6 separate regions of the Homo sapiens genome follow, and regions 1, 2, 3, 4 and 5 are each reported to be linked to region 6. The links are microRNA targets in miRTarBase. Many come from high-throughput screens and were not tested one by one. Region 6 holds a microRNA gene; each other region holds the end of a gene's coding sequence. Distances are from middle to middle.

Region 1 (4,989 bases), not on the chromosome of region 6:
TTGATTTAAGGATTTTTTTTTAAGTCAGGGTGATACATTCAATGGATAACTAAATGTCATTTAATTTTTTATGCTCTGCAAAAATATCCATCTAAACAAAACTCATAAATAAGAAAGAATCCTATGTTAGATCACTGGCATTGATTTGGTTTTGAGAGTATGGTAGCCTCAGGGATGTCAGGGCAGTAACTGAAATGGCCACTGGGCATGGTGAGCTTTGAAATGACCAAACCCAGATCTATGAATTTCCAGGATATTTCACCAGGATGAAGGAAATGTTAAAAACAAGAAAACAAAACAAAACAAAACAAAATGAACATTTTTGGACAGAGCTTTGCCTCCATGATTCTGATCATTACCATGTGATGTCAAAAATGGGTAGGTACCTTTGCCGCTTTTAATTTTCTGCCTTCTCCAGACTCTACCTCTCCCTGTGTAGATGACCAGAGTTGACACTGCAGGGGATATCTAACCCTAGAGATTAAGTCAATGTTCAAAAGCTGTATTCATAGTCAGGGCTCAGCTCTTCCAAAGGGACTAGCCACATAGGAGGTAGCAGTTCCTAAAGGTGACCCTAAATTATTTTGAGTGAATGCAAATGCTCCTTTTCTTCCCCATAGCATTGGGGTGGCAGGTGGATGCTGACTTGGAGTAAAATGCTGGCTGTTGGAGGTGGTCATAATTCACCAAGTAGAGACCGGATGATCACAGGCCCCCAAAGATTCTTTTTCAAGAAGGCCACATAAAGTCTTGCATTTCTCATTCTTTCCTCCCAAGTTCGTGAGTTTTCACTACAGCTGTGGGACTGGGGGACACTGGGAAAGGACTTTCACCAACCATGAACAAGAAGAAGGGGTTGAGGTAAAGTTGGGTGATTTCAGTCTGGAGTTCTCTTTGGCTCCTAAGTGCCACATATCAGTCCGAGGGTTTGCCATAGAAGTGAGGGGTATAATTTTGTTTCAGCACCAAATCAGCATGGTTTGTGTGAGTTTTAAGTAACAACTGGTCAGAGGAGTAACAACAAATGGTCATGGACATCAATGATATGGTTAGAAAGTTCAAGCAGAAATTTTAAAAAGGGTGCCTGAATCTTTATTCACTACAAAATAAATGGACCTCTGGGCCTCTCATTAGGCGACTTGGGTGGTGTCCAGTTCTCCCTGGAGGTAATTAAGCTTTTAACCTTCTTTTCTTTTGTAAGGGTCGGGGGATCTTGTGAGAATACTGGAGGAACTCTAGACCTGCATTGTCCAATTGGCAGCCACTAGCCACATGTGACTATCCAAATTGAGAGGTGCTGTGAGTGTAAAAGACACAATGGATTTAGAAGACTTAGTACACAAAAGCATGTAAAACATGTCATTAATTTACATTAGTGACATGTTGAAACAATATTAGGTTAAAGTACATGATTAAAATTATCTTTACCTGTTTCTTTTTACACTTTAAAATGTGGCTAGTAGAAAATTTAAAATTATGTCTGTGACTTGCATTACGTTTCTGTTGGACAGTGCTAGTCTAGACTCTTGCTATAGAAAAATGCACATCTGCAAATACACATACAGTCTGCATTTGCTTCTAGAGGGTACACACACCCTCTGACACTCATCTGTAGACTACCAGGTCTCCAGGTCAGTCTCTTCTTTGGGGGAGGTAAAGAAGGCTATAAGGAAGGGCTGTTCCCCTTTCTTCTGAAAGAGAAACTTTCTGGTTAAGCTTTTTTTTTTTCTTTTTTTTTTTTTTTTTAAACTATCAAAGCTACAGGAAAATCCTCCAGAAACAAACTTTGGTAAGTAGTGAATGGCAAAGGCTCAGGGGGTTTGCAGCAGGACCTCCTTGGGGTCAGATCTGCCAGCCTCGGGTTGGCCTTTCAGACCCCTCATCGTCTATGAGGCATCCTGTAAGTGCAGCTGTGGCCAGGGCTTGCATATGCAATCAATTCCTGATTCACCTAGTTCTTGGCAGGAAGAGAAAATACTCGTTAATCAGAGGACTAAACAATCCAAAGCGCATTCTCTCTCTGGGAATGGAATATAATTTATATTTCTGTTGCTATTGAATTATCCTTCTAATTCCACTGGACTAAACTTAATACCAGTAATACTAAAATTTGTTTTGGGCAAAGCCGACTGAAGGAGGAGTCAGTGGCGCAAGCCTATGCTGACTGTGAAAAATAAACACCTCTGAGATCAAGAATCCCACAGTGAGAGCTAGGATTTGAAGGTATCCAGAGATTGCAAACTCTGTGACTAACAGCAATTTTTAAACAAGGCAAAACAAACCAACTCCTACTTGGACTTAAAACTTCAATCATTTAGATTTTCATTCTCAGCACCATAGTTGTGCCAAGTCTCAAAGGCTGTTATTACATGATACATGTCAAGTAACTCTACCTCCCCAAGCTACGAAGCCTGATTGCCACAAGTCATAGCTATCTGCAAAAATGGATCCTGCCTCTGAAAGACTCATCTGTGGTCCCACAGCCAGAGGAGCTTGGGGACTCATGTTATTAAACCCTTCACATTATAGATGAAGAAGCCGAGGCTTAGTAAAGCGTGTGGTTCATCTAGGATTCTCGATTCAGAGCTCTCTTCATTCCTCCCTGCCTCTTTTCCCACACATAGAGAGTGGATTTCATTACAGGAAGCATTGGACTCCTAGGGAGATGCAACCTTTCTGAGGGTAATAATCATCTGCCTTGCCTTACTGTCTACTTACAAACCATCAAATAGGAAATTGGTAAAGGTGGTGAAAAAGGAGCAGCTAGTATTCTCCGTTGACCTGCACACCATGTTTCAGCAGGCGGCAAGGATTTACAGCAGAACCAAACTCTTTTTGAATGAGTATTAGTCTAATGAGGTGGAAAAGTCCCCATCAATACATAAAAACAACTCAGTGAGAAAAGCTTTCTTTCCTGGTTAATCCAAGCCGCAGCCTGGTGTTTGCCAGCTGTGTAGAGATAAGGTGATCCGTCTGATTGTTCAGAGACGCTATCAATGACCTTAGTCATCTCTGTATCTGGATAGTCTGAATATATTACAAAATTGCCCACTGAAAAAATAGCACATTTCTGTCATAGTTACAAAAGATGAATAAAAACAGAAACAGTTTAAAAACACCATTGGGTTTCAGTATTTACTTGATACCTCTTTTCCTTTCCCTCTTACTTTGTCTATTTCAGTCAGGATAAACGATCTAGCAAATTCTCATGCTGCATACTTTTTGGTTCAAATGATACAGCAAATCACACCTCATTCCTCACTTGGTATCTGGACACACTCAGGGAGCCCTGGGAAGCAATCTGCTAGGGATTCACCTAAATCCTCCCACATGGTCTGGTGAGATTCAACAGAAGTGTGTCGAAATTAAGGTAAAAGCTAGGTGCTACTGCAGCCCCCACTATGTTTGCCATTGGACTTAAAAATGATTGGCTTTTCTCTAAAGCCTCCATTTTTTACAGAACCCACTTACAGAGGTAAGAAAAAAACTGTTCTAGCCCAGGGGAAACCAATGCAACTGGCATTTTGTTTTCAATAGGAAGAAAATGTGGTATCTGGTTTTAAAACCAGCCCTACAACCACCAAAGACTGGATGCCTTGGAGGGGACTTCTGAGTTCAGAATTTCAGCCAAAGACTGTAAGACCCAGAAGAATGAAACGGCTTCCCTAGAGCTCCCTTCTCATGTCACGTGGGCCCTTAATCAAGCCCGGCAAGTGGAAGCAAGTGTGATGTGGCTTAAAATAACCAGCAGTGGCCTCAGCAGATTTAGGGCTTAGTGTTGGGGTCTCTGGCAGCTGGGGTTTTTAAAGGCCCACTTAGAAGAACTTAGATTCTTAATGAAAGCTGGCCTTAGTCCATTTCAGGGTGCTGAGGCACTTCTCAAAGCCATGCACACTTCATGCTGGGAGGTCAAGACCACATATCTCAGAGATGGAATACAAACTGATCATAGCAGGAACTGGTGCTTCTAAACAGAAACCTATACAAAAGCTGGAGTGCATCAAAGGAAAAACAAAGGAATAGATGGAAAGTAAACTACAAATAATCTTTAAAAAAATTGCCAAAGAAATCAAACAACATGCCAAAAACAAGAATGATGAGACATGGAAAGAATTGAAATGAAACTAAGAAATCCTAAAGGTGGCCTTTCAGTCTCTGTTTTAGGAGCTTCTGAAGTGTATGTCTACATGGACATAGGAGTGGAAATCAGCTTTCAACTTCCCAGCTGCCAAGGCCACAGACTGCCATACCGATGGAGAAACTGCATCCTGATTGACAAGACTTTGGATATTGCTTTTCGTCAGCATTCTTGAACGGAGCGCCCTGGAGTTGCCAAGGTGATCTGGAGGTGTGTGTGTGCCTGGTCCAAGTCTTGGAGCACTCTTCCCTTCCTTTCCCTTGGGTCCTACTATCTCTTTGCTTCTGGATTTGTCGTTTCAAGATTTCACTTCTTCACAGTCCTGGTCAGTGGAAAGTTCTACATCAGACAGTCCAACCTCCATTGCCATGATCAAGGAAATGTCAGAATCACTGCTTACAGCTGGCTCCTGCTCACCTGGGAGGAGAAAGCAAAGTTCACAGTGAACACCGAGCTATGTCTTTGCATGCTGCTTATTTCAGTACAATTGCTTGTAATAACATTTCTTTAAAGGCCAAGAGAAGGTATTAGAAAAATTGGGTATTCTGTAAAAACTCTAGTTAAAGCCTCATCTCACATGGGCCAAAAAGTTAAATGCAAACAAAAGAAACTAGAATAATAAAATATATCATCTAAGGATATGTCTTAGTAGGAAAATATATATCTACCGTAAGTTGGGCAAGAAATTCTATTTAGAAAAGTAATTGGGTAATTTACAGAAGAAAAGATTGTTACATATGCGTAACATTTAAAATGTTACACACATGTAAAATAAAATCAAAAGGCATATCAAACTCAGGAATTTGCAAAAAATTTCACAAAGGTTTCTATTCTTAACATATAGAAAGCTT
Region 2 (5,199 bases), not on the chromosome of region 6:
AATATAGCCAAGTGTGCCAGTTTGGGCGTTCATTCATTGTTATATAATATTATGATCCTGGGACCATAAGGAGCATATGTCTAGCTCTTGATAGTTCTATGTTCTACCAGGAGGCATTGCAGCAGCATAAGCCCTCATGTTTTAAGGTCTAACTTTTCTTTCTGATATACCTAAATTTTAAAGACTTTTTAGTACATTAAGTTTATGGTTGTCCCTAACTACTGAGTAGTAAATTTAGCCTACTAATTGCTTTTCTGTATTTTGCCTTAATAATAGTAGTTAACATTTACTGAATATTTTTATGTGCCAGGAGTTGTTCTAAGTCCTTTAATTATATTAGTTTATTTAGTCCTCATTTAAATAATTAATTCTATGTGCCAAATTCCATTTATTATCTCCATTTACTAGATGTGAAGACCCAGTTATAATGTTATATAACCCCCTAAGTCACACTTTGAGCCACTATGCTATGTTGCCTTATACTTTAGATTTTTAAGCCTAAAATTATTCTATTAATAAAAAGGAAGGTCATATGAAGTAATTGTTTAGCAGTTGATTCTATTTTAAATAAAAGGAACAAACCTTTGTATAATACTCTCTATGTTCCAAGCCCATTATAAGCACTTTACACAAATATTAGTTCATTTAATCTTTACTCCAGTCCTGTAAGATAGGGACATTATTATTCCTATAGTGTGGAAAAGGAAATTGAGACACAGAGAGACTATGTAACTTGTCCATGGTCACCCAGCTGGTACATGACAGAAATTCAGGGAAAAAATACCATCACACCAATTGTTGCAATTATTTTAATTTAACATTCGAGTCCTGCCACTGCTGTTTGTCTCAGAATAAATTGTTCCATCTTTCTAAATCTTAGAAACCTCATTTATAAATTAAAGGTGGGGGGATTCTATCATCTATAAGGCCCTTTCAAATACTCTTATTTATTGTGTACAAAAACCCCTGAAAAGTCACTTACAAAAAAACTTGTTCATGCCCGTCTGAAGATTTACGAACTCCAGCTTTTTATCTGACTGTGCATTCTGACAATTTTCTGCATTTCTCTAAGAATGGTCTGGAAAGGGATCTGGCAGGAAATAAAGAATATATAAAGTATTTTGATGGTCTCCAGAAATGCCCATTTCAACTCAGCATCTGCCGACAGGTCTACCTAATCTTCCAAACTCTGTGTAAATCCTGGATCCACCATTTACCAGCTGTGTAACCCTGGACAACAATTCCATCTTTCTGACCTCAGTGTCTTTCTCTGCAAAACAGCGGTAAGAATGATCCTACTTCAATAGAGTTGCTGTGAGGATTCACTGAGATCATGTGTACCAAGCTCCTACAATAGTACTGAACCCACAGTAAGTACTGAGTGAAAATTAGCATTATTGCAGATTTCTGCTCCTATGAAAGTTACGATTGTGAATTACTACACTTATACACTTCCTCTGAAGTCTAAAGAAATCACAGGCTCCTCCCAAGATTTGGAAAATTGAGCTCATCTTTGTCTATCTTCAGAAAAAAAATCTAGTTAAATTGTTCAATGGTTAAGTTAGATATTATCTGATATGGAACTAAGTTTGTGAGATATAAACAGTATTCTGTCCACCCCTCCTTAGTTAAGCTAAGAGGTATTAGCTTTATTATTTGCTAAATGTCACTTAGCATTTGATAAATGTAACATTTACAGTGCATTCTCCGAGGACTGGAAACAGTATTGTAGAACACCAGAACCTGTTTTCCCCTTGAAGTAACACGCTATCTCAGTATATAAATTACCCAGTACCCAAGGTAATGGAGAAGAAAACCTAAGGAAGTTTGACATTTACTTTGGAAGTGTGATAAAGCAATTGAGACTGTTGAAATTTAACACTACCTTGAGGTCTTATTACACTTGCATGTCACTCCTTAGTGCAAACTCACTTTTGCTTTATAGAAGAGCCCAATATATTAATCTACAGCCTTAAAGTGAGTTACCGGTTTAATGCAGATCCAATCTGAGAATAAATTAGGCCCTTTTAAAGTGTATTACAGAATGTTGAGCTAATGGTAATTGACGACGTATATTCACTCTTTGCCAAGTTGTAGGTACAAATGTGATATGATTACATCCAGGACAAGAGCCTGAATTTAAGTAAGGCTTTTAGAGCTGAAGATCATAGAGATTATATCATCTACCAGAGGCCCAGAGGGATTAAGTGATTTGTCTAAGGTTATACAGATAATAGGTGGATATCCCAGATTTCAGACTAGACTTTCTTGAGCTCAAGTTCAAGGAAGGTCCATTCTTCTACACTATGCATTCAGCAATATATTACAATGGTAATAATAATTACAATAACCCCCATCTATTGAATACATCCTGTGGGCCAAGGGTTCTGGTAAACTCCACACATATAAACCCTCCTCTGACCCTGACCCTGTTCTATTCCTCTCATAGCTCCATGAGATATGTCTGGTTCTCTTCATTTTACAGAAAGATGACTGAGACTCAGAGTTTGTGACTTGTACAAGGCCTCACAGCTAGGAGATGCCAACAGCTGGGTCCAATCTCAGCTCGGAATCTGCACTCTGTCTACAGGACTAGCGCTTTGCCCAAGGAGACCAAAATGAAGACATCTTGTCTCCTGGTCTTGAAAATTAACTAATTCACTTTTAATGACATCAAGTGTAAACAATCTACCAAATTATTAAAACATTATCTTTTTGTCTATGTAGGCCATGGATCAAGACCATTAACTTATAATCAGTGATAGCCAAGAGGATGGGAAGAGAATATTAAGCCTGGTGCTCTGCAAATTAATACTTGCAGGTAAATGAGAAGTATCATAGGCATATTACTATTTACTTAACGTTTCATTCTATTTGAAAGAGAAATTCCCAAATGTTAAATACTACCCTACATTTTAAGCTTAAAAATACGCTGGACATGCGACAATGGTGCTGAGTACTTTGGGGGAAGATCACAACAGTCCTGGTAGCAGTGTCACAGCAAAATATTTCAGAGGTACCAGATGAGCTAGCTCCAAGGCAAATGAGGCAATATTATGTTTAACTGTTTGTTCGGAAACTTCTTTTATTAAAAAAGATTTTAAATATTAATGCTATTTTCAATACAGGTGTGATAACACTCAATAAAGCATGGTGTACTTGATATAAATTTCGGAATGTAACAGTCCATCTAGTTCCTGGTCCCCTCCAGTCTCCACCACATAGCCTAGTAGCAAAACGTACACACCCGTTTAAAAATGAAGAAGCTTTTGGGCATTGGGTGAGCACAGTGGGGTGGGGCAAGGAAAGTGCTCGTTCCTGAATTATTCATGCTTTTGGCTTTGACTTCAGTTAGTAACATCAATTCTAAGAGAACTGAGACAAACTCTTCTATGTTCCGCAAAGGAATGGAGAAAAAAGCCTGCCATTCGCAAGCAGCTGTGGGCAAAACCAGCGCAGAGTACAGGGGTCGGGAAATGAGGGATTAAAAAAAAAAGTCGGAGTAAAGTGCACAGTTACTGTCAAAAATATATTATTTTGATCCTAAGAAAATTAAAAGATTTTATCTAATGGACTAGATTGCTGACCTTTTAATACATTTGGTTTTCATTGAACATACAATCACCATCGGACATAAAAAGACTAGTTTGCTTAAAAAAAAAAATCCTTGGAGTTATCTACAGGAATCTTGTGGACGCAATTCAAGGATAACATTCTGCAGCTCTTTGGATATTGAATGATGTCCTCGGATCAGTCCACAAAAGAAACAGGGACCTGTTAATGCACTGATTCAAGTGGGCGTTTCTCCCATTTTCTCTTTCCTCCTCCCCAACCCACCCCTTTCTCTAAATGCCTGTGCTTTCCAGTTCTTCTTCTACCCCTATGGCATGAGACCTGGAAATCATGATGAGTTTCTCCTTGTTTGTAAACTGCCTCTGCACCGGCTGAGGTTGCTCGGCCGTGGGTGGCTCCTGGCTGGCACCCTCCGGCGAGCTCTGCTCCGCACCCAGAACGGGGGCGGCCACAGCAGAGTCTCGCGTTTGACCAGCTACTGCGTCCAAGACCGACTCGGTGGAGGTGCCGGCCTCCCGCAGGGGTGTGTAGCCCTTATTGCTGCTGGATGGGTCATCCGACTGGGAGCTCCCGGAGTCCCGCCTGGTGGGGGGCGAGCCCTCCAGCCGCAGGGGTGGCGAGGGGGAGGCGGCCTTGGCCAGAGGGCTGGAGTCCGGGTCCGCACTCCCCGGGGAGGGCGGGGGCTCGGGGGACGGCGGCGCCCGGTAGTCCGGGAGCCCGCTGGTGCTGCGGCGCCGCAAGGCCGCGTACCTGCCGGTCCTGGGCAGGCGGCCGCCCTGCCCCCTGGCGGCGCGCGCCGCTACCGCGCCCTCGGGCTCCTCCGGCTCCCGGCGCGCCCCGCGCATGCTGCCCTCTGCGCCGCGGAGGTTGGTCATGCTCAGGTCGAGCTCGCCCCTCGGGATCTCCTGGGAGCCGCGTTCCCCCGGAGGCCTCTGCCAGCTGCAGCTCGCGCCCTCCGCGTCCCCGCCCCTATCGCGGCCCCCTTGCAAGGGCAGCAGCGCGAAGGCGCTCAGCGAGGAGTCCACGAAGGAGCTGGCCGTGCTCTGGCGCCCCCAGCTCTCGGGTGGGCTGCAGGGCGCCGGACTGCTGCAGCTGCTAGCGGCTGCGGCGGCGGTGGCAGCGGCGGCCCGGCGACTGCCTGCCACGCCCGAGCGCTCGCGGTAGACGCTGTACACGGCCTCGGCCAGGCTCGGGGGCTCCCGCGGACAGCGCGGGGAAGAGGCCAGGTCCGGCGGGGACGCGGCGCCCCGAGGGCGGCCGCCGCTCGGCGCCGCGGGGTGAGGAGGCCACGAGCCCTTGGCCAGCATCGCCGCCGCTCCGAAGGCGTCCCCGGAGCCACCGCAGCCCCCGGGCTTCAGCTCCAGGCCCCGCGACTGCACGTAGCTGAGGAAGCCGTTGAGCGGTATGGCCCCGGGGGGCGCCGCGGCGGGGGCAGACGACGACGAAGAGGCGGCGGCGGCCGCGGCGGCGGCCGCGGCGGCCGCCAGGTCTTTGGCGCGGAGGCTGTGCACGTCGATGACGGTGGAGTAGAGGTCCCGCAGGTTGATGATTTTGGTCTTCTTGTCCCGGTTCTCGTGGAGGACCGCGTTTGCGCAGATGAAGAGGAAGATGCCGATGCCCATGATG
Region 3 (5,199 bases), 51 Mb from region 6:
TTAGTCAGTTCTCACACCGACTAAGGCAAGGGCCACCACGTCTGACTAAATGTTTGTATTTTTTAGTAGAGACGGGGTTTCCTCATATTGGCCAGGCTGGTCTTGAACTTCTGGCCTCAAGTGATCTGCCTGCCTCAGCCTCCCAAAGTGCTGGAATTACAGGTGTGAGCCACTGTGCCCAGCCAATAAAAACATAAATAATAACTGGGAATTTATAGGCTCACATAACCGCCAAGTTCAGGGGCAGGTCCGGACCCCACCGTAAACTGGGTTGGAGGTGCTTGGACGATGTAGTGGGGTAGCCTTCATCACAGCCGTAGCGTCCTCCGGGTTGGCAGGCCCCACTCCAAGCACCTCCACGTGCCGACAGCATTCCCTCCTCCCAATTTCAAGTTCAGGGAAAAATAAAATTCTCTAATCGTTCAAACCGAGTCAGACTGGAGGACGGCACTGATGTAGGTGCTCCAAAATAGGTCACCAGCCCATCCGCAAACCAACGATGAGAGGTGGCCGGGGGCACAGGATGGCCTTTGGGACAGAGCTCCGTCTCCCTGACCTCCTGAGCTGAGGATGGGGCAAGAGGGAACACACAAGGGCAGTCTGGGGTCTGAAGAGGAGAGCATCACACCGGTCTGGTGCAGCCTGGAAAAGCCAGAAAGCTCTCTGCATGGCCACAGGGAGCCCAGTTCCCCAGGGAGCCACGTGGGCAGCACCCTGGCCCCTAGCCCATGCTGGAACTCATCCCTGGGCCCTGTCTACCTGGAGACTTGAACCCAGACCTCCTGCCTTCCAGCCCAGGGCTCAAACCACCCGCAAGCTGGCCATTAATCTCAGAATCGAACTGAGTTTCACAAAACATTTTGTCCCTTGAAGTAGGGACAGCCCTGGAGAGTGAGGCCCCTGTCCCTTTCAAGGCTGTGGCCTTCAGCCGGTGTTGCTCATTGGGGAGAGGAGGGGGGACGCTGGCTCTGCTCCTGAGATGCCCCATCTGGGACACGGGGACAGTAACACAAGTCCCATGGGGAGGATGGGGACGACCGCGCCTGCCCAGCCCGCAGCATGGAGCCTGCCTACAACGGCCCCACTGGTATCATCCTTGAGAGGAGTGGGGCCGCTCGGGGCCACCAACCACAGAGATCCCAGCAGCTTCTCGGTTGGAGAAATACTTCGTGAAGGACCAAAATGGAACCACAGGCACAAAGCCTGGGGCGCGTGTGTTGGAGGCAGCACAGGCAGGGACAGGATTGTGGGGATGAAGAGCCAGGGACACCTGGGGACAGCCCACGGGGGCTGGACGGGTGACTGGGGAGGAGACCACTTCTGCATTCAGGTTTTGTCAAAAACCTAAAGAAGGAGAGTTTACAGAGAAATGTTGCGAAGATCACAAAACATACAGGTTCCAATATATGTATTTTTTACGATTCTTTATTTCCCCCTTTTTTTTCCACTGGGGAGCAGCAAGGGGCCAAGGAGAGTGACAACCTGGACGGGCAGGGGATGCTAATGCCACACTGTCCTCTGAGCCCACTGCTGGAGCCCTGAGTGGGGAGCATGGGGCAGAGGAGCCAGGAGACACAGCAGCTCTGCAGCCCCCTCCCTGTGATCAAAGCCCCCGCTCTGTCCTGGAGTGTTTGGGGAAACCCGGGTGCCCCCGGTGTGGGCATTTGGGAAGGCTCTGAGGACGCCCAGCTCCCTGGGGAACAGGGCCCTGGACCGAGACTCTGTGCTACTACCTCCACATCCCTGGGTGTCCACAGAGCAGGGGACATGCTGGGGGAGGCGGCCCAACTTGCGAAGCACCGCGGGGGGCTGCCTGGGGTATCCGGCAACTAAGCCCAGTTGGTGACTTCCAGGGGAGTGGGGTGTGGATGGTCCAGGCCATCCGCCCACGGCCCAGCAGCCCAAGGCTGTGACCCCAGCTCTGCTGTGATGGGCCAGGCTGTGTGTGTGACAAGGCTGTGATGGCCCAGGGCCCAGCTGGGGTGCTCTTGCACAACTGGGACTTCGCTGGGGACCAGGTGGAGGCCACCTGAGGGCTCGGGGCAGGGGAAGATGAGGGAGCCCCCAGACTTGCCATCTCCACCTCTGCCCAGTGCGGTCGGCTTTGCCTTCCAGCTTTTCTTTTCTGAACCCCAGGTATTTTATTATTATTGTTATTTTAGAGACAGTCTTGCTCTGTTGCCCAGGCTGCAGTGCAGTGGTGGGATCACGGCTTACTGCAGCCTTGACCTCCTAGGCTCAAGCGATCCTCCTGCCTCAGCCTCCCAAAAAACAGACCACAGGCACTGGCCCCACACCCACCGAACTTATTTTTTTTAGAGATGGGGTCTTGCCACGTTGCCCAGGCTGGCCTTGCCCTCCTGGGCTCAAGCAATCCTTCCGCCTCAGCCTCCTGAGTAGTTGGGGCTTCAGGTGCAAGCTATGGGACCCGCTCTGAGCTGTGAGTATCTGAAACGTGACCACTGTGGTGTTCCCACTTATGGATTCCCGCCTCGCTGGCATAACCCTCCTGGCCACAGGCTGTGCCGTCCAGCTCTGCAAAGACAAGACTCACCCCTTAGCCCCCAGAGTTGGAAAGACACAGAAGCAGGTGCATGGAGCAGAGCCAGGCGTGCGTAAGGTGCAAAGCAGGCCCCATGGCAGTGGCCACAGCCACACTGACCTGGGCTGGGTGGGAATGGGACAGGAGGGGCTGAAGCAGATGGCACAGCCCTCGGAGTCCTGTCCAAATGGAGGTGAGGACGAGGCGGATGTCTGGCCACCCATAGGCCTCGGGAAGCAGGGTCACAGGTTCTGCTGACCAGCGTCCTTCGTGGAGGACTAAGACTGGGGAGGGACGCTCCCAGGGCACGAGGGGGGCTCCTGAGAAACTCACAGTCGCGGGAGAAAACATCAGAGCACTGGGACTGAAGAGACGGGGAGCATCCACTTGTCTTGCTCGGGAGGTGGGGACACAGCCGACAGCTATCCCTGAGGCATCTCTGAGCACTGTTGGAGGGTCCAGGAAGCGCCCCCCCGACCCTGCACCCCCGATCAAGACTTTGCCATGTTGCCCACAGCCAGGGGAGTGGGGCCGCCAGGGAGGGCAGGCACAGGCAGTCCCCAAGGCCATGAGGATGAGGGCCATGGCCGAGCTTCCAGCAGCTGCCCTGGTTCACCTGGTTCACTTGTGTCCAACAGGAACCCCCAGAGACTCTGCCTAGGAAGCTGGAGTGAGCCCGGCCTTCCCCTGTGGATGAGAGGGTGGGCAGCTGCTGACCCCCAGCCCCGCCCCGGCTGCCTGTGCGCACAGGGCCTGCCCTGACTTTCCAGACTCTCTGACCAGTGGAGCCTGGTCCTTGATGGCCAGAGCTGAGCAGGGCGGGGGGAATGTTCCAGAATGACAACAGGTGAGAAGCATGCAGGAAGCCGAAGTCTCTCAGACCCCCCAGGCCGGCCTGGCTGGCAGAACTGGTTCCCAGCCCTTTACTCCCCCACCCCCCGCCCCCACAAGGACCTGAGCCCCAATCCAGGGCCTGGTGTGGCAACAGCCCGAGGGCTGGACCCTGACCCGCCGTCCCACCGTCCTCGGACCAAAAAAGCGCAGGAGCCAGTGACCAGGCCAGGGAGCCTCTCTCTTTTTCTGTTTCCTTTTAATGACCTCATTTCAAAGAAGAGCCGTCTCCTGACAAGGGACGTTTCCCAGAGAGGAGACGTGTTAGTGCAACAAAGACCAGGCCCTGGCAGCCACGAAAGCCCTCCAGATGCCTTGAGGACGCCGTCTCTAGCCGGGTGGGCCACGACCGGGTGGGGACAGACAATGACAAGAGGCAAGACAGCCGCTCAGCCACCCTGCCAGTCCCAGGCACTGTGCCAGAGCCTGCCCCATCCTGTGCCGGGGGCTAAGGCACCAGGGCGGCGGGAGCGCAGGCCAGACTGGGCAGTCGCAGTGCCAGGCCTCAGCAGACCTGCGGCTCGGGCTCGCAGCCCCCGACCTGCAGCCCCTTGCTCAGGAGGAAGGCGTCCTGCTTGGGGTCACGGCCCAGGAAGCGCCTCAGCATGGCGCTGGCATCCTCGGAACCGCCGGGTCTCAGGATGCAGCTTCTGTAATCCATGCCAACCTGCCGAGGAGACAGGGCACTGTGGCCGGGTGGGGACCCAGGGAGGAAGGCAGAGGACCCCAGGAGTCTGCACACCCTCGCCCAGGGGGGCCTCGGAGCAACCCCTTCCAGGTTCCCAGGGAGGCCCGGGGGCCGCCTGCATCAGCACAGGTGGGAGAGCGCAGGTGCCTTTCATCAGAATCTCAGAGCGGGGGTGTGCACTGAGGGGCCAGCAGAGCCCCGAACTCCCCAAACTCCCGAGGTGGCTCCCGCCATCAGCCCCCACTGAAATCCCAGGCTGAGCCCATGAACAGAAGTGGCTGAGCCTCCGGCTGGACAATGTGGAAGCCGCTCGCGCTCTGGGCCGCCCTAAAGGCCCAGGTTTGAGCCCAGCCCTGTGACTGCGGGACTACGGGCAGGTGAGGCAGATGAGACTGCGAGGCGCCGGTGCCAGCCACCAAGGAGACCCCGACGCCCCAGAGCCCCGCAGGAGCCTGCGCGGACTGCAGGCTGCAGAGCCAGGGAGCCACAGTCCCAGCTCCCACCCGGGGGACTCCACCTCTACAGCCCCCGGCCGGTCCTCAGAGGTGGGACCCCCTCACCTCAGCAGCAGGGGGAGCTGCTGGAGGCTGCCTCAGGAGGGGGGAGGTCCCTGCTGGGCTGTGAAGACAGGGGGCTTGTCGGACCATTGCTCCCCCAGGTCCTGGCCTCTGCACCTCTATAAAGGGAGCAGCTGAGTGCCTGCTTGGTGGCTCCGAGGTACCTGCAGGCTGCCCAGTGCAATGTTGCACCCAGGCAGGGCAGGGCCGGCCCTCAAAGCTGGTAGCCACCTGTTCCTTGTGAGGGACTCTGGCGGCTGTCCCGAGCCTGGGTCACACCAAGTCAGCGGGAGGCACAGGCTCACATGGCGTAACGGCCGCACTTCATAGTGAGGAAACTGGAGGTTGGAGGAGCAAATGAATGGCAAACGCCAAGCCTTCTCCAGAGAAGGGTCTGTCTCAGCCCATGGCTCTGAGGCCGATCACGCAGATCCCGGAAGGACTCGTATGGGAAGACACGGAGCTCCCAGCACTCACAGCCCGAGGCCTGAGGGGCCAGTGTGGAGCTTCCTGCAGGGCCC
Region 4 (4,938 bases), not on the chromosome of region 6:
TGCAGTGAGCCGAGATCATGCCACTGCACTCCAGCCTGAGCAACAGAGCGGACTCCTTCTCAAAAAAAAAAAAAAATGTGCACAGGGGTTTGGGAACAGTGGGCAGAACCTGCCAATGAGGAACAGTAGGAAGCTTGATGGTGTCTCTGGATGACTGAAACAGGTGTTCCCTCCGGCACTTGTCAGGGAAAGCTCAGAGGTCTTAGCAACTGGCTTCTGTTTGGACTCACTAGGCACTCTTATTGCAGGATCAAAGAGGTGACTTTATAGAGAGGCATAAGATAAGAGAGGGACAACTACATGCTAATTGTATGTATACTACAGATGGAGGTTTCTCTACCTCTACCTTTGTCCTTTAAAACTGATCTCCAGCTAAACAGGTTTCTTGTAGTAGAACATAGCAACCAGGAAGCACATTAGCACCTCAACAGCTTTATGTCACAACTGTGGTTATGATCAGAGAAGACATGATCATAAATTCTCCCTATCATTCCCATACTCCATCTAGGATACAATGGCTGTTTGGTTCCAGCCATGAGGCTGCATGCAACCTGCCTGACACTGCTCGACCTGGTCTATCTTCTGCATGAACCCATATATGAGAGCCTGTTGAGGGCTTCAATTGAGAACTCCACTCCCAGTCAGCTGCAAGGGTAAGACAACTCCTATAGGGTAGGCTCCTTCCAGGAACAGGGAAGGGGAGACAGACCACAAGAACTTGGGGAATGGAATTAGCCTAGCATGGCATCCAGTCCCAGATAACCTACTCAGGCTACCTGGTTCTCATTAGTTCCAATATGTTGTTTGGATGCAGGTGACTGAGCCTGGTCAGGAAAACCCTAAAGGCTTTTACTTTTAAATTTAAATTACTTTAATTAATATATTTCCTTTCCTAGTTTTTCCTTTATAGCTGCATAAAACTCAAGGTTACTGGACTGCTTTGGTCAGTCATTTAGAAAAAAAAACAGTCGCCGGCGCGGTGGCTCATGCCTGTAATACCAGCACTTCAGGAGGCTGAGGCGGGCAGATCACGAGGTCAGGAGATCGAGACCATCCTGGCTAACAGCGTGAAACCACGTTTCCACTAAAAATACAAAAAATTAGCCGGGCGTGGTGGCGGGCACCTGTAGTCCCAGCTACTTGGGAGGCTGAGGCAGGAGAATGGCGTGAACCCAGGAGGCGGAGCTTGCAGTGAGCTGAGATGGCGCCACTGCACTCCAGCCTGGGCAACAGAGAGAGACTCCGTCTCAGAAAAAGAAAAAAGAAAAAAAAAACAGTCACAAGGTTGCAACTTGGACAAGAGTGTTTGATTACTGTAAAGTCAGACTGGTTAAAAGCCTCACAGTTACAATTGTTAGGGAAACAGATAGAACTAAAAAAGGCCTATAAACCATTCAAGACATAAGGCTCATGTTAATCCCAGTTAAGTTGGGGGAGAATGGGAGAGCAGGTCAATGAGCTATTACTTGACCATTTCCTTCCATGTCTAAAAAATCCAAGATGATCGACACAAATAATTCATAGTTGAAGTTCCATGACCCTATGATTTGGAAGATCAAGTTCCATTCTAGCTTTAAAATTAATGTGGTTTTAATCACTCAGGGAAAAGTTTACTTCAGTGAAGGAAGACTTCATGCTGTTGGCAGTAGGAATCATTGCAGCAAGTGCTTTCATCCAAAACCATGAGTGTTGGAGCCAGGTATGCACCACTGAGCAGGACCAGCATGGTGAGAATTCATTTAACAGAAAGCATTTCACCCATCAGTTAAAGGAAAACAGAGGACAACCTACAGAAGTGCCAAGACCCAGGATTAGGATGGGTGTGCAAGATTTGAGAGGGAAAAATCTAGGATAGGGCTGAAATGTTTCCTTGTTTTCCTTTTATAAAACTGGAAATGGAGGCCCAAGTTCGGCTTGTTCATTTCCCTTTATAACGATAACCTGCTATTATGTTAAACTCCAGGCTGGGCACGGTGGCTCATGCCTGTAATCCCAGGATTTTGGGAGGCCAAGGCAGGAGAACTGTTTGAGCCCAGGAGTTCAAGACCAGCCTGGTCAACACAGCAAGACCTTGTCTCTACAAAAATTAAAAATTAGTCATGGCTGGGCGCAGTGGCTCACACCTGTAATCCCAGCACTTTAGGAGGCCGAGGTGGGTGGACTGCCTGAGCTCAGGAGTTGGAGACCAGCCTGGGCAACATGGAAAAGACCTGTCTCTACCAAAAATTTTAAAAAATTAGCTGGGTGTGGTGGCACATGCCTGTGGTCCCAGCTACCCAGGAGGCCAAGGTAGAAGGATCCCTTGAGCCTGGGAGGTAGAGGTTGCAGTGAGCCAAGATTTCACCACTGTACTCCAACCTGGGAGACAGAGTGAGACCCCATCTCATTAAAAAAAAAAAAAAAAAAAAAAAATTAGCCGGGCATGGTGGTGCATGTCTGCAGTCCCACAACTATGTGGACTACTTGGCTGAGATGGGAGGATCACTTGAGCCCAGGAGTTGGAGGCTGCAGTGAGCCATGATTGCGCCACTGTACTCTAGCCTGGGCGACAGAGTGAAACCCTGTCTCAAACAAACAAACAAAACAACAACAACAACAAAGGCCAGGCAGGGTTGCTCACGCCTGTAACTCCAGCATTTTGGGAGGCCAAGGCAGGAGGATTGCTTGAGCCCAGGAGTTGGAGACAAGCCTGGGCAACACAGTGAGACCTCATTTCTACAAAAAATAAACAAAAGTAGCTGGACATAGTGGCTTGCGCCTGTAGTCCCAGCTACTCCAGAGGCTGAAGTGGGAGGATCACTTAAGCCCAGGAGGTGGAGGCTGCAGTGAGCCAAAAATCACACCACTGCATTGCAGCCTGGCAGCCTGGGCAACAGAGTGAGACCCTGTTTCAAAACAAAACAAAGTCCAACAATTATATCTTCTCAAATAATGAAAATGTCAAGGCCCAAATATCATTCTTATATTTCACAAAACTTATCTCCAGCAGAGGGAAATGTCTACCAGAAAGTTTCCATGCTAACATTATCAGGGCAAAGGTATCCTAATATAATTTGGCCATTGGCAAACACTGGAATCTGGATTTCAGAAAAATGAATTTACAATTGCCTTGAGAGAACATCCCAAGTAATGTGTGTGTTTGTGCACTAAAATGTGTTGAGATTTTTTAGTAATAAGAAATCTGTCTCTATTTCTGAAGGTTGTGGGGCATTTGCAGAGCATCACTGGTATTGCCTTGGCAAGCATTGCTGAGTTCTCTTATGCAATCCTGACTCACGGAGTGGGAGCCAACACTCCGGGGAGACAGCAGTCTATTCCTCCCCACCTGGCAGCCAGAGCTCTGAAGACTGTTGCTTCCTCTAACACATGAGGGAGGCTGAATCCACCAAATATAAACAGCCATCCGTCACTGCACTCATGCCTCCCTCTGTTTACTTTCATACTAAGGGTACAAAAATTCCAAGTCTCTTTTGAACTGTATTTTGTATGCCAATTTCATGCTTATTTTTCCTTTATCAGAGAGAGTTAAGGTGGACGAGCATGCCCTTTTTGTCATATCAGCCTGAAAATGTTAAAAAGCTAGGTGGAGACAGATTAGTTGTTTCATTTTTGTTTAACAAGGTATTTATACTTTTAGCTTAATTTCATTAAGAGGAACATCAGGCATTGCAATCAGTATTAATCAGGGGCTCAAATACAGACTATCTGGGTGACCTTGACTAAGCATCAAGGAGGTAGCCTTTATTTCCCCTTAAAATTAGTTTAACATCTCTGTTCCATTATTCAGATCTACACAAACAAGGCTTCCTCAACAGCTATCTATTTTTACTAGAGTCTTTTTTTAAAACTAAAACTAACTCTAAAGAAGTTTCAACAGAATTTCCACATACCTGCATTCATTAGAACTTGATTCTCCCAGAATACAAAGTACTCTATTTTAAAGAAAAACCCAACAGTGCACCCCTGGGCAGTTTTCAGACTGCAGCAAATCTTTTATTACAAATAATTAAATCTCTCCATAATGTCTCAAACAGTATCAAACACCATTTCATATCTCTAACACAGAGCAGAGTCGGCATTCAGTATAAGAACCAAGTGAAAAGTGTTAAATTTCAAGCATCTGATCACATCACATGGTGACCAGGTAAAGCTTAGATGTCATTTTCCCACATTATCCAACTGTGCATCTCAAACATATCCTCATCTCAGTAAAGACAAAAGTTTCTATTTCATATTGTTAAGTGCAGGAAGTTGAGAGAGATAAAAATCCAGTGAAAACACATCAATCTCAATTCAACTCAGTTAAAAAAAAGAAAAGCAAATTTAAATTAGTTTTTTTCAGAGAAGAAAGGGAAAGGAGTCCATGGGGTTAAGAATCAAAACTGACCAGGGCTGGCAACTATAGATGGCATGTTGTAGCTCTGGAAAGTATCTGTCACATGATATTTTAAAATAAAGTGGCTTTTGTGGATTTTTTCTTTTTTGGTATTGTAAACATGTACTGTTTAATATTACCCGAATTTAATTTAAAACATGTTTGCAAACAAAACAAAATTAAAAGCCTTTAAGGCAAACCTCCCCCTAAGGAAAAAAGTCATTTGTTATAAAATTGTGAGGACACCCAAGCAAGACCCCACTTAAGATTCGTCAGCATGAACTTGAGAGCTTTTGTCCACTGCTCCTCAGAGTTAAACTGGGTTTTGATGGAATAGGAGCCGCCACTGCCTCCTGTGTCTTCAATCTTGCCTTTCTCCACATCCATCCTGCAGATGGACAGAGCAAAACTCATTAGTAACTGAGATCTGAGTTAAGTAAGTTCGGGGCAGGGACTTGATCATGGGACCATTCACGTCATTTTATCTATTAAAGAACACTTGGTGAGGAATGATAGTGTATTTTGGATTTGCTTGAAAGCCAAAAATCAAGAAGACTGTCACA
Region 5 (5,199 bases), not on the chromosome of region 6:
ATTTTATTGCCAATATGTTGTCTTAAACATATAAAGGCAGCAGAAATACATTTTCAGGTATAAGTAGGCTCAAAATTTAAGGATCACTAACCATTCTTGAAAAATTTGCTTAAATACTCTGATGGACAAAAACAGTGTCAAAAATTAAGAACTTGAAATTGCATAAATGGCTGTTTAAAATGGCTGGCTTTTTTTTTCTCAAGGAAATCATCTGAAATATATGGAGAAAAACATTTGCAGTTTATCACTGTAGCATTATAAAATAGAGAAAAAAATAAAAGCAACTTAATAGTCAAACAATACATATATTTGATTTTTATGTGGTATTAAAAGATGTTAAATAACATGGAAAAAGAATTGTAACAATGTTAAATTTTAAAAGTTACATTTAAAATTATATTTTGAAATATACATAGTTATATTTATTCTAAGATAATTATTTCAACCATGCACAAAAAGAACTGAGGCAAACTAAGGTGATATTTTAACAATTTCTTCTGATGATAGAATTATAGCTCTTTTTCTCATTCTTTATGTTTGTTCAGAATGTGTATATTCTTTATATTTGTACAGAATTGTTCTGTAATGATCAAATATTACTATTATAAACAGATAAAAAATTATAGATATTTAAAAAATTGATAGAAAATATGCGGCAAAGATAAAATGTCTTTTTAAGATAAATTTCCTTTTTCTTAAATGGATCATTAGACTCAAGTATAAAATATGTATGCCTAGATATTAATCTCATATATAGAAAAAATAAATTGTAATCCTTGAGTAATCTAAATTGGTTGTCAAGTTTCATTTGGTAACTGTTATTCAACATTAGTCTCTTTCTTAAGTTTTCTCACTCTTTGTGTTTTGACATCTTTCAGGAGCAATACCGTTTCTGCTATGATGTAGCTTTGGAGTACCTGGAATCATCTTAGTTGGGTGAGACTCTTTAAAGTGCATCCATGAAGAAACCTGTCCATCTATTGAGCCAGCAGCTGTTGTACCTGTTACACTTGTGCAGAAAGATTTTAATGTGGGGGGTGGGAGACTTTTACATTTGAGAGGTAAAAGTATTTTTTTTATGAAGTTGTGTATCTTAATAAAAAGGACTGAATTAGTTTTTATTACTATATTAAAGCATCAACATTTCATGCCACATAAATTATATTTAATAAGAACCAGATTGAAATGAGAACGTATTGGTGTTTGTACAGTGAACATGCCACCTTTTTTCTCATGGTTTCAGTAGAGCAGCTACCACATGTTGCATGAGTTCATACTTTCTACGTGGCATTTTTCTCCCTTTCTAAAATGAAAGCTGATGAATCTTAAAAGGAAGAAGAAAAGAAAAGCTGTGCAAATTCATAGTAAAGTTCGTTTTTTATATGTTTCCAGTGTAGCAGATCTCTATATAAATATATAAATATATATAACTGGCTTATTTTCTTTTAATGTGCAATGATGGCTGGATCATTTAAAGTTCTTTTTAGAAAATAACATAAGCCAAAGACTCAAGTGTAAATATGTCTATATGGAGAAAGCACATTATATTTATTGGTTACTTACATTCCTTTTTTGATGGCTAAAATACTACCACCACACAATCATCTTTTTTTTCCTGAAGAAAGCTTTTTCTTTAGCTAAAATCAATTGTAAACGATTTTTGTAGATTATTTTTTGTATGTTTTAGTGTAAGTAGAAGATAAACTTTTTATTCATAAACCAGGAAGCAATGTTCTTTATAGTGATTCTCTTGTGTACATGCTTGTGAATTAAATTTGTGTAAAATCCCTTGGCAATTGGGTCTTTTAATATAGGACCAAATTAAAACATTTTGCTGAATATGTATAGTTTTTCACAATTTCATTAGGTAAATAATGGTTTGGTGATCATACATGAGAAATGTACACATTAAAAGGCCTTGCTGACAACTTGCACAATGTTGAACATAGCCTTTAAGCATCATTTAAATTTTAAAGGAATGGAGTTTTTCAGCCTGTGGCCCAGCACTGGTCAAGAAAACAAGATGGCAACATATATGCTTTCAGGGTCAAATTTGAGCAAACTGTAAACTGTCAGGGTGATAAAATGTTTCTCTTGATGTTTACATGCACAAGCTTTGCGTTCTGACTATAAAAAGTGTGAACAAATCAATGCCAGATTCCTGTTTTGCGCATTGTCATGGGATTCTTAAGTGAACCTTTCTAAATGTGGTCTTGTTCACATGCTCCACGTAGCTGTAACTTCACATCATCAGCTTGCAGTTTGTAATTGACTAAAGCATTCCAGTGTCCTCTTTCTAGATTGCCAGCTCATGACATGGTGCTTATAAAGATTTAATTAAAGTAAGAATGAAATAAAGTTTTTATAATTATAACAGTTATTGTTTGCACATCATTTTTTCCTCTTAATGTTTATGCATTCACCACTAAATGAGTAGCTTATTCCTATACTCGTTGATACAAGTAGGCCACAAAAACTCTATTTAAAGAGTAAAACTGATTTCCAACCTCTAGTTTCTTTTATTTTTATTTTCTTAATTTAATGCCAAAATGTCCAGTAGGTGGAGATGGAAAAGGCCAGGAGATTGACATCATTTTTTGTTTGTTGGTTTCTATATTTATCCATGTATGTAATACACATTTTCCATTTGTGTTTGTCACTATCCATTTATATAATACACATCTTACTTTTTTCTTATAACCAACATGACAAATGGTACTTATGATCCCTATTTTACAGATGATGAAATGGAAGCTAATGAGAAGGTACATGATTTGTCAACAGATTCATTCCTACTTAGCAGCTATGTCTTTACCACTAAACACATTGTTTCCCAAATGTCACAAAGATAGACAAAAAAATTTAGAATTTCATTTCTATTGTTCCTCATTAATCAATTTTCTCTTAAAGTATTATTATCATAATGGACATCTTCAATCTCCCATTTGCTATGTACTTTATTAGAAAATGCGTGACTTTTTAAAAAATTCAGATAAAGCAAACTTTTCTTAGGAAAGCTGATTTTCATTTAAACATGGAGGCATTTAACAAAAAAAAATCCACAAACTCGCCCAAGATTTTTTTTACCCGGTAATGTTTATTATGTTATCCTATAGAAGATTCTGTTTCACTGTGTGACACTGACTTCATTTCTGCTCATGACTGCACCACACACCAGCAAAGTTATCATGAGCACAACTGTCCACAAAGCTCAGAGGTCTGTGCAGCCTCTGTAATTCAAAGAACAAGAGTTCTCTTTCTTTGTAACAGGAAATTGAAATATCATGCTTGCTTTGTTTGGGCACCACAGAAGCCACTTGATCAGGAGACAATGGAAGAGGGGTTGCCTGTTGCTCTCAAAACTCATATTCAAAAGCTCATATCTTATACCCTTAAGGGCTCCCTAAGTAGTCTTGTGCATGACTATGTTCTCCGACACCCCCAGCCATGTCCCTCTGGGCGGATGTCCTGGTGCTGGCTGGGGGTGGGGTCCTCTTCCACTGGCACAGCTCTACATGCTTTTCATAGTTTAGGGCTTCCTATTCCTAATTTAGTTATTCCTTAAATGGCTGTCATGTCGTTGAATTTTACAGACCCCCTTTCTATAACTATCACTAAGGAGATGTTGGAAGTGTGTGGGCCAGAGACACACCAGCAACTGGGAATTTTTGAGTTTTAAAACCATTCTTGGAAATAAGTGTTATCTCTCTTAGAGTTGTCTCCTAGCCTTTTCTAATACTTAGGCTTTGGAGTCTGTATTAGTCAGGATTCTCTAGAGAGACAGAACTAATAGGATAAATATATAAAGGAGTTTATTAAGTGTTAACTTACATGATCACAAGGTCCCACAATAGGCTGTCTGCAAGCTTGAGGAGGAGGAGAGCCAGTCTGAGTTTCAAAATGGAAGAACTTGGAGTCAGATGTTCAAGGGCAGGAAGCATCCAGCACAGGCGAAAGATGTAGGCAGGGAGATTAGGCCAGTCTTGCCTTTTCACGTTTTTCTGCCTGCTTTATATTTGCTGGCAGCTGATTAGATTGTCCCCACCAGATTAAGGGTGGATCTGCCTTCCCCAGCCCACTGACTCAAATGTTAACCTCTTTTGGCAACACATAGACACACCCAGGATTAATACTTTGTATCCTTCAATCCAATCAAGTTGACACTCAGTATTAACCATCAGTCTTTAGATAAAGGTGTTGCTGTGTTGCAGCCAAATGATCTCTGACATTGAAAGATAAACAAAAGGGGAGATATTTTTTGCCTGGACATGGAGAGGCTGCATGTTTATCTCCACACTGATGTGCTGATGTGCTCATTCAGTATTCATATTACCACAAGAATCTCTTGAGTTCCAGGCATTCATGTCGTAAACTTGGAAGTCAGACACCAAAGGCTGCTCCTTCTCATATCTACTCTCCTTCCAGAAAATGGTGTAAGGCAAGAGGTTCTTAGCACCTGAACTTAATAGATACCAGTAAATACTAAAATGCAGAAGAGCAGGGGCTGATTGTAGCTCAACTGAAAATATGAGGTGGGCAGTCTACTAGCTTTGGAAGACCACCTTTGAGATTTGCCTTTTTTTTTTTTTTTGAGATGGAGTTTCGCTTTTGTCGCCCAGGCTGGAGTGCAATGGTGCGATCTTGGCTCACTGCAACCTCCACCTCCCAGGTTCAGGCGATTCTCCTGCCCCAGCCTCCCAAGTAGCTGGGATTACAGGCACCTGCCACCGCGTCCCACTAATTTTTGTATTTTTAGCAGAGACGGGGGTTTGCCATGTTGGCCAGGCTGGTCTTGAACTCCTGACATCAGGGGATCCACCCGTCTTGGCCTCCCAAAGTGCTGGGATTACAGGTGTGAGCCACCATGCCCAGAGATTTGCCTAACTTTCATAGGGGAGTGACAATTCAGCATTTATATTTAATTTCTGTGCACTTTGGCAAGCATTCTTTTTAATAACAAAATAGCCAGAAATCAATAATCCATCACATACCCTGGGTATAATATGTAATATTTACCTTATAAAATGTTTCCATAGGCAGAGACTCCACATCCTTCCTAGACTTATTTCAGTGTTTTAGTAAACACCCCTACTTAGTGTAGAGTCTATGTGCCATTTCATTCAACACTGAGTGAAGCTAGAAGGCGGCTGGCTGTGCCTCCCTTAATCATTTCTACTTACATATTATTTCATAGCCTCA
Region 6 (4,895 bases):
TCCAGTGTGTTTCAGGAGAGCAGGCCCTTGTCCGTCTATTTGCCACCACATCCCCTGGCCGAGATTGGGTCTAGAACAGGTTGGCACTCAATAAATATTTCTTGAATACTGGGAAAACAACACACCAGAAATGGAGCATTCCTTGACGCTGCGCTTGCTTCTGAGTCTCCACGTTGCTTTTTGTGCGAATCTCTGAGTCTGTCTCCGGCTTACCTCTCCCTCTCTATCTCTGTCTCTGTGTGTGTTTCTGCTATCTCTGGGACTTCTCTGATTTGTGCACCTGTCAGTCTCTCCTCTTCCTCTTCTCTCTCCTCTGTATCACCTTCCTGTCTTTGACTTTTTCTCTGTCTGTGACTCTACTAGTTTGGTCTCTCCTGCTCTCCCCCTCCCTCCCCATCTTGCTCTTCCTCCTGCCTACCCTCAACCTCATTCTTTCTCTCTCTCTCTCTCTCTCTCTCGTTCTGTTTGGCCTTCAGACTCTAGAATCCATTCTCCCCTAACCAGTTCCCTCTCCCTCTTCCAGCAAATATTTGCTGTCTCTCAATTTTTTTTTTTTTTTTGAGACAGAGTCTCGCTCTTTCGCCCAGGCTGGAGCGCAGTGGTGCCATCACGGGTCACTGCAGCCTCACCCTCCCAGGCCCAAGCGAGATCCTTTCACCTCAGCCTCCTGAGTAGCCGGGACTACAGGCGTGCACCACCACACCCGGCTAATTTTTGTATTTTTGGTAGAGACAAGATTTCAATATGTTGGCTGGTCTGGAACTCCTGAGCTCAATCTGCCTGCCTCAGTCTCCCAAAGTGCTGGGATTAGGAGCCACAGCACCCGGCCAGATTTGTCTCTTTTAACACCCGCTCCGGCATCCCTCTTCTCTCCACGTATCCGTCTCTCTCACTCAGCGCTTCTCCGTCTCACTGATTTGTATTCCTTTTCCTACATTTCCCAGCATCTCTTCCTGAAACCGCCTTGGCAGAATTCTTCCTAGGGACCTTCAGTCTCTCTCTTCCTGGTCCTTCCACACAGGCCTCGGAGAGAAATTCTGAACACCCAGCTCTGATCTGTACCCTTCCGTCAAGAGAAGGGCACGCAGAGCCCCTGGCAGCATGGCACCACCGCTGCCACGTCCTCCTCAAGCTGCGTCTGTGCCTGTTTTCCCGCCAGACTGGGAGCCCCTTGAGAGCAGGGCAAGATCAAAATCACCTCTCCACTCCCAGCACCGCCCAGCACAAGGCTTCGGGGGAGGCCTCAGGAAACACTTGCTGAGCAAATATGGAAGGGAAGCCTACTGGGCGCTGTCCCCTCTGCCTTCTCAGTGAACTTCAAACCCATCCCCTCCAATCACCGCACAGCCCTTGCCCCCGCGCAGCTGTCATCCTCTCTCACCATCCTTAGAAGAGCCTCAGTCCCTCTGCCTGGAACTCAGGCACCTTTTTCTCTTTTTTTCTGAGACAGGATCTCAGTCTGTTGCTCAGGCTGGAGTGTAGTGCCGCGATCCTAGCTCACTGCAGCCTCGAACTCTTGGAGTCAAATGGTCCTCCTCCCTCAGCCTCCTGAGTAGCTGTGTCCACAGGTGTGCTCCACCACGCCCGGCTAATTTTTTTTAATGTTTTGTAGAGACAGGGTTTCGCCATGTTATCCAGGCTGGTCTCAAACTCCTGGGCTCAAGTGATACTCCAGCCTCAGCCTCCCAAAGCGCTGGGATTACAGGCATGAGCCACCGCGCCCGGCCACCCTGGTACCTTTACACTCTAGCTTGTGGCTACTTTCCCGGCCTCATCTCCCAGCCCCACCTTGTACATCAGCATCCCAGAACTGTTAGCACTGACCCCAATACATCATGCTCGTTCACTTCCTCCCGTTTTCACCCAAGTTGTTCTTTGGCCCCACAAGCCTTTCTCATGCCTTTCATCAACCAGAAGATGCCCACTCATTTCTTCAAGACCCAGAATGGGCATCATATTCTCCAGGAAGCCTACCCCAAGTGCTGCTCACTCCTGGCAGTTGGTCACTCTGTCCACCGTGTGCCACGGTACCCACGGTGGTCCGGGTTCCAGCACCGATTGCCCTGCCTGGATGGCGGTGTTTGATGACAATAAACTGCTTGAGAGCAGGGCTAGAGTCTGTTTCACCCCTGGGGATCTGGATCCTAACACACTTCCTGGTACCTTAGCAGATGGCCAAAAATGGCAATGGGTGAGTGGCTGAATGAACGAGTGACAGACACATGAGTCTCTAAGCCCCACGGCTTTCTCCTGCACACCAGACACCATGACTATGCTTCAGCATCTGTGTAATTACGTGCTTCCTCCCACAAGAGTGTGAGCTCCAAGGGCCCGTGCCCATGTTTGATGCTGTATTTCAGCACATCTCTGCCTCCTACTCTTGCCTCCGAGTTCCTGTCTTCCCTTTGTACACCATTCACGTTAGCGTCCTGCTTAAACCCGTTCCACGGCCCTCACCACTCCTAGAATAAAATCTGAACTCCTGACCTACGAGCCCCTGCACAATCTGGCCCTGTCTGTGTCTCCGGCCTCACCTTGATCCCCGCTCACCTGCCTCACTACCCTTCAGCCCTCGCTGCAAGCTCCTTCCTGCCCCGGGGCCTTTGCACGTGCTGCTCTGCCTGCCACACTCCTGCCCCAGCTCCGCCCTGCTGGCTTCTTCTCATCCTTTCACTGTCCACTGAAATCTCTTCCTCACAACTGGGTTAGGCTCCCCTGATGGAGCATTTCATAGCATCTCGTTTCTCCTATAGCCTAACTGTAATTTATTGTGTATGTACATGATCGATTAATGCCTGTCTCATGCACAAGATGTTTACTCTATGAGACGTCGGGGCCCCTGGCTGTTTTCCTGCCTCCTGCACGCTGAGCACGGAGCACAATGCCTAGCTTTTTAAGGCGCACAAATAAATTGCCGGTAATGAATGAATGAATGAGAAGGCCCTTTCTGTGCCTCGTTCGTGTCCCCTGCTCCAATGCCTTCTTATGTACCAGTGCCTGGTACACAGTAGGTGCTTAATAAGCCCTTGTGGAATAATGAATGAAAAAAATGAATGAATGCCCGCGTCCAACCCTTCTTTCTGCCTTTCTGCATCCCTTCGCTGTGTCTCTTTATATAGGGCATATATATAGTTTGTGGGTGTAACTATGTATTCGTGTATTATGGGCCCCTCTCCAGGAGTTGGGCTGGGCTGGGAGTCCCTCCCTCCCCTCCCCCCGCCCCGCCCCCCATGCACACAGCAAAACATGAAAAAGAAAACATCTCGAAACTGCAAAAAACACCATGGCCCTCCCCCCTCCCCATAGATCCCCCAAAAAAATAAAACACGACGCTCCCTCACAGCGGCCCCCTCCCTCCCCTGCCCCCTCCCTCGGGGTCCCTGCTTCGGAGGGGGAGGGGGGCGGGGAGGGTGGGCGTGGGGCGGGCCCAGCAGTCTCCAGCGCGCTCACGGGGGAAAGCGGGGGCGCCCCCGACCCCGGCAGCCTCGATGCACGCGCGCCCGCGCACGCGCCCCGGACACGCCCCTCGGCTCCCCCGCCGCGCCCCTACACAGGCGTGGTTTTCCTGTTGAGCGTGTTGGTGTTGGAGGCGGCGGCCTCCTTGGCCAGGGTCCCGGGGGCGGGCGCAGAGGGCGCGGGTGGCGCGGGCGCGGGCGGGGCGGGCGGCCCGGTGACCGTGACCGTGACGCCGCCGCCCGCCTCCTTGGGGAAGGCGTTGTGCAGCGTGAGGAAGCCGGACGCCCCCCCGCGGTCCCGCTCGGCACCCGCCCCGCCGCCGCCTCCGCCGCCGCCCCCGGCGCCCCCGGCCGCGCCGCCGAACGCCCCCACGGCGCCGCCGCCGCCGCCGCCGGCCCCCGCCAGCCCCGCGGCCACGCTGCCCTTGGAGGGGTCGCGGCTGAGCGTGTACATGGAGATGTCCGTGGAGGCAAAGCCCGGGCCCCCGGGGCCGCCGGGAGACGCGTCCCGCGACGGCGACGGCTCGCTGGAGCGGGAGCTAGAGCGGGAGCGGCGGCGGTAGCGGAAGCGGTAACTGGGCAGACGGAGGATGGCCGAGGGGCCGCTCCCGCCACTGCCGCCCGCGCCCCCGCCGGCCTTGAGCAGGTCCGAGCGAGACTGGCAGTGCGCCTCGCGGCTGCGCTCGATGTAGATGTTGACGGCCAGCACGCCTATCACCTCGGCCAGGATGAACGACAGCCCGCCGAAGTAGAAGGACCAGCCGTACGAGTAGTGGTTTTTCTTCTCCTCGTCCCGCTTCGGGCCCGGCTCGCCCGCGTTGGCGGAGATGTACACGATCACGCCGATGATGTTGCTCAGGCCTGGGCGGGGACGGTCAGACGGGAGCCTCGAGGCCACCCCCGGCCCCGCCCCCGCCCCCGGCCCCGACCCCTGCCCGCCTGCGCCAGCGGGCCCAGGCGCCACCCCCAGGCGGTCTAGGCCCCACCCCGAGTGGTCTAGACCCCCGTCCTGGATCTGGCTGACCCAAGTCCTGCCAGAAGTGAACACAACTCCCCGCCCGATGCTCTAGGCGCTTCCCTGCTGGTCTAAGCTCCAACCCAGAGGGCTCCGGCCCACTCTTAGCTGGCCCAGGCCTCACCTCTGCTGGTCTAATCCAACCCCGGCTGGTCGAAACTCCATCCCCCAGGTGGTGTAGGGCCGCCAATGGTCCAGACTGCATCATGCGTGGTCCTGGCCCAGGCAGGCTCAAGCACCCCCTCAGATGGTCTAAATTCCACCCCCAGGTGGTCCAGGCCCTGCCCTGAATGGTCCAGACACGGCCCTGGATGGTCCAGGTCCTGCCCCCAGATAGCCCACGGCCCACCTCTGCCGGTCTAACCCAGCCCTGGCTGGTCTAAACTCTGCCCCAGGTGGTCTAGGACCCACCCCCAGATGGTCTG

The links. The annotated mature microRNA hsa-miR-935 reads CCAGUUACCGCUUCCGCUACCGC and lies in region 6 at 4,012-4,034, opposite strand. An mRNA with a match to its seed (bases 2 to 7 or 8) in the 3' UTR can be bound and repressed. Matches are read on the target gene's strand: a 7mer-m8 pairs with bases 2 to 8, a 7mer-A1 pairs with bases 2 to 7 and ends in A, and an 8mer does both.
Region 1: miRTarBase lists RNF150 as a target of hsa-miR-935. The part of its 3' UTR that is shown has no 7-base or 8-base seed match.
Region 2: the mRNA of TMEM200C is a reported target of hsa-miR-935. Seed matches in the 3' UTR shown: 7mer-m8 at 3,513-3,519 and 7mer-A1 at 3,348-3,354.
Region 3: the mRNA of THOP1 is a reported target of hsa-miR-935. The part of its 3' UTR that is shown has no 7-base or 8-base seed match.
Region 4: miRTarBase lists BECN1 as a target of hsa-miR-935. Seed matches in the 3' UTR shown: 7mer-A1 at 4,299-4,305.
Region 5: the mRNA of PTPRK is a reported target of hsa-miR-935. The part of its 3' UTR that is shown has no 7-base or 8-base seed match.

What each region holds. Positions count from the first base shown.
Region 1 is chr4:140,863,825-140,868,813 of GRCh38, forward strand. It overlaps RNF150 (ring finger protein 150), which reads right to left. Exons shown (of 7, transcript NM_020724.2): 7 at 1-4,555. The coding sequence ends at 4,437. Among named protein-coding and RNA genes, the nearest start is that of TBC1D9, 110 kb to the left of the region's middle.
Region 2 is chr18:5,886,353-5,891,551 of GRCh38, forward strand. It overlaps TMEM200C (transmembrane protein 200C), which reads right to left. Exons shown (of 2, transcript NM_001395400.1): 2 at 1-5,199. The coding sequence ends at 3,846. It overlaps MIR3976HG (MIR3976 host gene), which reads left to right. Exons shown (of 10, transcript NR_172496.1): 8 at 1,169-1,370; 9 at 2,728-2,821. Among named protein-coding and RNA genes, the nearest start is that of TMEM200C, 6.6 kb to the right of the region's middle. RefSeq lists a silencer at 4,211-4,430 and an enhancer at 4,948-5,199.
Region 3 is chr19:2,812,016-2,817,214 of GRCh38, reverse strand. THOP1 (thimet oligopeptidase 1) reads right to left here. Exons shown (of 13, transcript NM_003249.5): 13 at 1,408-4,100. The coding sequence ends at 3,939. Among named protein-coding and RNA genes, the nearest start is that of ZNF554, 5.3 kb to the left of the region's middle.
Region 4 is chr17:42,806,166-42,811,103 of GRCh38, forward strand. BECN1 (beclin 1) reads right to left here. Exons shown (of 12, transcript NM_001313998.2): 12 at 3,969-4,763. The coding sequence ends at 4,595. CNTD1 (cyclin N-terminal domain containing 1) reads left to right here. Exons shown (of 7, transcript NM_173478.3): 5 at 509-653; 6 at 1,603-1,699; 7 at 3,200-4,938. The coding sequence ends at 3,370. Among named protein-coding and RNA genes, the nearest start is that of CNTD1, 9.8 kb to the left of the region's middle.
Region 5 is chr6:127,965,960-127,971,158 of GRCh38, reverse strand. It overlaps PTPRK (protein tyrosine phosphatase receptor type K), which reads left to right. Exons shown (of 30, transcript NM_002844.4): 30 at 879-2,374. The coding sequence ends at 932. Among named protein-coding and RNA genes, the nearest start is that of PTPRK-AS1, 59 kb to the left of the region's middle.
Region 6 is chr19:53,981,501-53,986,395 of GRCh38, reverse strand. It overlaps MIR935 (microRNA 935), which reads right to left and starts at 4,089; the gene lies at 3,999-4,089. It overlaps CACNG8 (calcium voltage-gated channel auxiliary subunit gamma 8), which reads right to left. Exons shown (of 4, transcript NM_031895.6): 4 at 1-4,316. The coding sequence ends at 3,547.